2 linked regions of the Homo sapiens genome follow. The protein of the gene in region 1 interacts with the protein of each later gene in a pairwise test. Each region holds a gene or a part of one and is shown on either strand. Other genes may lie near its edges.

Region 1 (3,821 bases):
TTCATTCATGGGCACATAATCTAAGATATAAAATAGTGAGGAAACTTGAAACCATGCCATTTGAGACACACTTAAAGAACCCAAAGATGTTTGTTTTAGAAAAGTAAAGACTCAGGGCTGTCATCACATGTTTAATAGACTCTCGTTTGGCAGAGGGTCAGATTCTCCCTGTGTGGCCTTAGAAGGTAAAACAAAAAGTGGGTTAGATATTTTCAAGACAACAGATTTTAAGAGTAGGTCAAGATATTATCAAAAAGACAGATTCTGGCTCTATGTGAGGACATTCCCAACTCTACCAACTAAACAGGTATGGGCAAAAAAAACAAAGAAACAACACTGAAGTGAATGGCTGTGCAGGACTTCTGACTCAAAGAAGAGAGGTAAACAGCAACACTTTGTTATTACTAATCTGTGCATTTATACACGTTACTTTTTACAAGGTGCTTTCACACATCATTGGGCTAGCTGGTATTTTTACACAGGAGGAAGCTCACCCAGAGTCTTAGCTGTCAAATCACAACACTTTCTTTCTGTAACACTGTTCTTTCTAAAACAAAGCTAATGGAACATAAAGCAAATCTGTTAGAACCCCCATTTGCACTCCCCCAGGGTTCCAGGAACAATAAAGAAGAAGATACTAGTGAAAATGTGGTAAAAACGATGTTTGTGGAAGCAAAGGAAAAACTCCAAAAATAGAATAGCTTACCTTGTCCATAAATGATTGAAAGATGAAGTGAATAAAGGACAGGAACTCTTCGTCAACAAAAACCATGTTGATAGAAGAGTGAAAAATTAGAAATTATTGGTAACAAATTAAGAATAGCTGGAAACAGAATAAATACAGCTTGTGAGATTAGTTTTCCTTGTTCATACATGTATTCAACAGTTATTATTAGAACACTTAGTATGTCTTGGCACTGTGCTAGGCTCTAGGGTTACAGCAAGAAACAATGTATAGGCCAGGTGTGGTGGCTAACACCTGTAATCCCAGCACTTTGGGAGGCTGAGGCCAGTGGATCACCTGAGGTAGAAGTTCGAGACCAGGCTAACATGGCAAAACCCTGTCTCTACTGAAAATACAAAAATTAACTGGGTGTGGTGGCACGTGCTTATAGTCCCAGCTACTGAGGAGCCTGAGGCAAGAGAATCACTTGAACCAAGAGGCGGAGGTTGCAGTGAGCCAAGATGGCACTGCTGCACTCCAGCCTGGGTGACAGAGCGAGACTCCATTTCAAAAAAAAAAAAAGAAAAGAAACAATATGTAGACATGGCCTCCACCTCGCTGGATCTTCAGACTTATACAGGAAACAAACATTAAAGTATACAAATTCTTTTTTTTTTGAGATGGAGAGATGGATGGAGTCTTGCTCTGTTGCCCAGGCTGGAGTGCAGTGGTGCAATCTTGGCTCACTGCAGCCTCCACCTCCTGGGTTCAAGCGATTCTCCTGCCTCGGTCCCCTAAGTAGCTGGGACTACAGATGTGCTCCACTATGCCCGGCTAATTTTTGTATGTTTTGGTAGAGGTGGGGTTTCGCCACATTGGCCAGGCTGGTCTCGAGCTCCTGGCCTCAGGTCATCCACCCACCCCGGCCTCCCAAAGTGCTGGGATTACAGGTGTGAGCCACTACGCCCGGCCCCTACAAATTCTTAATTATAAACTCTGGCAGGTGTCATGAAGAAAAAATACAGAGTGCTGTGTGAATGCCCAACATAGGACCCTAACTTAGTGCAGACAGTCATGGAAAGGTTCATTTATTAAACCTAGATTTGCCGTGATTTTAGTCCTAGAAGATGAGGTGACCACGTGCCCAACTCTGTCCTTATAGTGCTGACCCACAACCATGTGCTCTTCCCCTTTTAACCCTGGCCTTACGTGGGCCAAAACGCTTTTCCTTGGTTTTTCCTTGCATAGCTGAAACAGGCTGGCATTTGAAAACAAAAAGTATTTAGTACCAAAGAACAAAAGGAAAGTAGTGTTGACACTAGTGTTAAGGTGATCTCATCTTGAGAAAAGTTGTACTAATTATGATTAGTTTTAAATGTCCAGTTTGCCGTGCTTAGAACATATAGCGAGAGGGGAAGAGGTGGTGGTGGGGAGAAAAAACCATAGCGAATTCACTTATTTAGAGAAATGTTATTGAACATCCTATGTGCCAGGCACTGCACTGGGCTCTGGAGACAGAGTGATAAACAAATGACTGCTGAATTAGGATAGCCTTCCTATTCTGATAATGCTCTGAGCCCCAAACCATCCCTTAACAAAAAAATTCTTTTTTAAAACTCCAGTAAGTCTCTTGTACATGCTTTTTTAGATAAGAACTTTGGCAGTATCCAGCATAGTCAACACATAATATCCCACCCACACTAGCTAAGTCAAACCTGAAGGAGAGGTTGCCTGGTTTAGTATCCCACCCTAAAACCAAGGATCAGAGAAAGAAAGGGTGAGTAATTGCTGTGATTTCCTTCTTTGCCAATAAATAGACCCCTTTTCTGTTTTTAGGAGCATGGCGATAAGAGTGTACAATTTGATGGGACTTTTCGATGGGGTGTGGTAGTCAGGAATAACTATCTACTTTTTGTAGCTAACTTAGAAATCATTTTGCAGTAGGTTGGGTGCGGTGGCTCACGCCTGTAATCCCAGCACTTTGGGAGGTGGAGGCGGGCAGATCACAAGGTCAGGAGTTCGAGACCAGCCTGGCCAATATGGTGAACCACCATCTCTATTAAAAATACAAAAAATAGCCAGGCATGGTGGCATGCCCCTGTAGTCCCAGCTACTCAGGAGGCTGAGGTGGGAGAATCGCTTGAACTGAGAAGGCGGAAGTTGCAGTGAGCCGAGATTGCGCCACTACACTCCAGCCTAGGCGACAGAGCGAGACTCCGTCTCAAAAAAAAAAAAGAAAAAAATCATTTTGCAGCGTATTGGTTTCCAATGCTACTTTAATCATCCTTGATACCTTCCTTTTTGTTACTTTCCTCCTATGTCCTGACTTATAATTAATCACCAGTTCTTTTCTGTCCTATCCTAAAGATCCCTTGAAATACAACTAAGTTCACTGTTTAGTTCAGCTGACTTTTTGTTTTCCATAATAAGACTTTCACCGTGAAAGATAGTGGTGGTTTTGCATCCTGGCATTATCTCATCAAGACCCAGTCTCACACAGTTCACAGAATGGCTACTTTGAGTAGCTCTAGTCTAAGCCACTGTCATCTCCCCTAGTTGTTAGTCTGCGGTGGGAGGGTGCTTTCTAAATCACACAGTAGCCAGAGGGAATTTTTTTTTTTTTTTTTTTTTTGAGACGGAGTCTCGCTAGGCTGGAGTGCAGTGGCGTGATCTCGACTCACTGCAAGCTCCGCCTCCCGGGTTCACGCCATTCTCCTGCGTCAGCCTCCTGAGTAGCTGGGACTACAGGCACCCGCCACCACACCCAGCTAATTTTTTGTATTTTTAGTAGAGACGGGGTTTCGCTGTGTTAGCCAGGGTGGTCTCGATCTCCTGACCTCGTGAACCGCCTGCCTTGGCCTCCCAAAGTGCTGGGATTACAGACGTGAGCCATGGTGCCCGGCCACCAGAGGGAATTTTTTTTAATGCAGATATAATGTTACTGTCTTGTGGAATTCCTTTAGTAGCTTAAACTCACTCAAAGGATGAATCCAAAATCCTAGCCAGGACCTGTCTCAACACAGTGTTGGAAAGCAGTGTAACAGAGAGTAGTATCTCCCAAGGTGTAATTTCATTTTATTATTATTTTTATTTATTTTTTGAGACAGAATCTTGCTGTTTTGCCCAGGCTGGAGTGCAGTGGTGTGATCATAGCTCA
Region 2 (3,821 bases), on another chromosome or scaffold:
CTCCAGCCTGGGGGACAAGAGTGAGACTTCATCTCAAAAAAAAAAAATTTTTTTTTCCTTGTTTGTTATTGGTTTCTCTAGGAACGGAACCAAGAAGTTCAATTCTATGAGAACAGAGAAGCTGCGGTCTTATTTCTTCCTATATTCCTAGTTCCTAGAGCAGGGAAGGCATTCAAAAAATATTTACTGAATGAACAGTAGAATCTCAACTTAAAATAAACAGAATCTGTCCCCCTCCTCATGTGAGGGATGAGAAGGAAAGGACAGTGAGAGGAACGGAAGAGTGGGAGCTCACAATAAACACCATCCATTTTTAATTCTTTTTCTTATGTTTCAAATATTTATTGGGGGTGCTGGGGACATGGCAGGAACCGAGATATTACCAGTCCCTGAACTCAGGTAACTGATAGAATTTGAGGGAGAGAGATAGATAAACAAACATATAAATATGTCGTTTAATACAAGCTGTGTCTTGAAGAAAAGGAGGTAGGGAGCGTGTGTGTGTGTGTGTAAAATCCAGTTTAGGGGCGTAGGTTGCTTTCTCTGGGGAAAGTAGCTGAGCTGAGACGTGGAGGAGAAGGGGTTAGCTGGTGAGAGGGGCTTTGGGGTGGGGGAGAGGCGTTCCTAGCCCAGGAAACGGCTTATGCAAATAGCTGTGGAGGGTGAGAGGTTTTCTGAGTCCATCCTAATGAGGGCAATGAGGAACCCTCAGAGGGTTTTCATGTTCTGTTTGCTTTTTTGAAGATTTTATTGTTGTTTTTGCTTTTGACAAGAACACACACACACACACACACACACACACACACACACACACACACACACAATTAAAAAGTAATCCAAACTATAGAGACAAGATATGGCTTTAGCATTCCTTCCCAGAGGCAGTCACTGGTGCCAGTAGCTTGCTTCCTTCCTGGGAATTTTCTACGCATATACAAGTGTATATTCTACACATGAGTAAAATCAATGCCTCATTTTGTTTATTAATTCATAATTATAATACTTATTATTTTTGAGATGGAGTCTCACTCTGCCTCCCAGGCTGGAGTGCACTGGCATAATCTCGGCTCACTGCAACCTCCACCTCCCAGGTTCCAGAGGGTCTCCTGCCTCCGCTTCCCAAGTAGCTGGGATTACAGGCATGCACCACCATGCCTGGCTAATTTTTGTATTTTTATTTTATTGTATTTTTATTTTTAAATTTACTTTATTATTATGACTCTTTTTTTGAGATGGAGTTTCGCTCTTGTTGCCCAGGCTGGAGTGCAATGGCGTGATCTCGGCTCACTGCAACCTCTGCCTCCCGGGTTCAAGTGATTCTCCTGCCTCAGCCTCTGGAGTAGCTGGGATTACAGGCGCCCACCACCACGCCTGCCTAATTTTGTATTTTTAGTAGAGACAGGGTTTTGCCATGTTGGCCAGGCTGGTCTTGAACTCTTGACCTCAGGTGATCCATCTGCCTCGGCCTCCCAAAGTGCTGGCATTACAGGCGTGAGCAACTGCACCTGGCCTATTTATTGTTATTATTGAGACAAGGTCTTCCTCTATTGCCTAGGCTGGTGTGCGGTGGCATGCTCATAGCTCACTGCAGTCTCCAAATCCTGGGCTCCAGTGATCCTCCTGCCTCAGCCTCCTGAGTAGCTGAGACTACAGGTGCGGACCACCATGCCTGACCAATTTTTGTATTTTTTTTTTTGTGGAGACAGCGTTTTGCCATGTTACCCAGGCTGGTCTCGAACTCCTGGGCTCAAGCAATCTGCCCACCTTGACCTCCCAAAGTGCTGAGATTATAGGTGTGAGACACAGCACCTGGCCATCTGCATTGTTTTAAAAATCACAAATGGTTGCGAGGTATACATACTGCCCAGCACCATACTTGTTTCCTTTGAATATATAAATATTATAATTTTATAATATTTATAATATATAATAACACAAATAATAATAAATATATATGGTTTGGTCATATACAATATATAAAATAACATTCACAAACACTTATTGTCAAAGTGCAATTAAATGGGAAAAAAAGAAAAACATTTGGCCAGGTGTGGTGGCTCATGTCTGTAGTCCTAGCACTTTGGGAGGCTGAGGTGGGAAGATCACTTGAGCCCAGGAGTTGGAGGCTGCAGTGAGCTATGGCAACGCCGCTGCACTCCGGCCTGGATGACAGAGGGAGACCTTGTCTCTTAAAAAACCCCAAAAAACAAATCTGATTCTCTGACGCATATATAATAAGCACAGGTCAAAGATTTATTTAAGTCATGAATGAAGGAACCAGCTGTTTCAAAGGAGAATTTGGGCCGGGTGCAGTGGCTCACGCCTGTAATCCCAGCACTTTGGGAGGCTGAGGTGGGTGGATCACGAGGTCAAGAGATTGAGACCATCCTGGCCAACATGGTGAAACCCCGACTCTACTAAAAATACAAAAATTAGCTGGGCGTGGTGGCGGGTGCCTGAGGTCAGGAGTTCGAGACCAGCTTGGCTAACAATGGTGAAACCTTGTCTTTACTAAGAATACAAAAAATTAGCTGGGTGTGGTGGCTCATGCCTGTAATCCCAGCTACTTGGGAAGCTGAGGCAGGAGAATAACTTGAACCCAGGAGGTGGAGTTTGCAGCAAGCCGAGATTGTGCCACTGCACTCCAGCCTGGGCGACAGAACAAGACTCCATTAAAAAAAAAAAAAAGGAGAATTTGATGAACAGAAGTTGATAGGTTTAGTCAGGAAAGACGGGCTGGAGAAAATTTGCCAGGTTAGATACAAAACTGGTTAAAGACCTACAGGACAATACAACTGTAACCTTTGAGGTTACCTTTTCTACCAGAGAGAAATCATTTGCAACCAAACTTCCTGGGGTTACCATTTACCTTGTCGAAGTCTAGACTCTAATCAATAATGAATAACAGACCGGGTGTAGTGGCTGACGCCTGTAATCCCAGCACTTTGGGAAGCCGAGGCAGGCGGATCACGAGGTCAGGAGTTCGAGACCAGCCTGGCCAACATGGTGAAACCCCGTCTCTACTAAAAATACAAAAATTAGCCGGGCATGGTGGCGCATGCCTGTAATCCCAGCTCCTCAGGAGGCTGAGGCAGGAGAATCGCTTGAACCCAGGAGGCAGAAGTTGCAGTGAGCCGAGATCGCGCCACTGCACTTTAGCCTGGGCGACAGAGCAAGACTCTGTCTCAAAAAAAAAAAAAAAAAAAAAGAATAGTAAATCAAATACAGGTACAGTCCCTTAGAATAGGGTCCCCAACCCCCGGTTTGTAGTCTGTTAGGCATGGGGTTGCACAGCTGGTGAGCAAGCATTACTGCCTGAGCCCCGCCTCCTGTCAGATCAGCGGTGGCTCTAGACTCTCACAGGAACGTGAACCCTATTGTGAACTGCACGTGCGAGAGATCTAGGTTGTACACTCCTTATGAAAATCTAAGGCACTGCCCACTCCCATCCATGGAAAAATTATCTTCTACGAAACCAGTTTTTGGTGCCAAAAAGGTTGAGGACTGCTGCCTTGGAATATGAAGCAAACTTTGGGTGGGTCTGTTAGACAAGACTCCCAGATGACTTGGAAATGGCATGCTGTCAGCTTTTTTTGTCTTATTGCCGAGCCTAGAACTTTTTTTAATTTTTATTTTTTTTGAGATGAAGTCTTGCTCTTGTCTCCCAGGCTGGAGTGCAGTGGCACGATCTGGGCTCACTGCAACCTCTGCCTCCCGGGCTCAAGCGATTCTCCTGCCTCAGCCTCCAGAGTAGCTGGGATTACAGGCGCCTGCCACCACGCCCGGATAATTTTTGTATTTTAGTTGAGACGTTTCACCAT

What was found.
Region 2: the proteins of SZT2 (region 1) and CRX interact in binary tests that used the Homo sapiens proteins (3 or more experiments, as listed by UniProt).

Annotation. Positions count from the first base shown.
Region 1 is NC_000001.11:43,396,193-43,400,013, forward strand, and holds part of SZT2 (KICSTOR complex protein SZT2), read left to right. Parts: intron 1-3,821.
Region 2 is NC_000019.10:47,828,120-47,831,940, forward strand, and holds part of CRX (cone-rod homeobox protein), read left to right. Parts: intron 1-3,821. UniProt on the Homo sapiens protein: Transcription factor that binds and transactivates the sequence 5'-TAATC[CA]-3' which is found upstream of several photoreceptor-specific genes, including the opsin genes.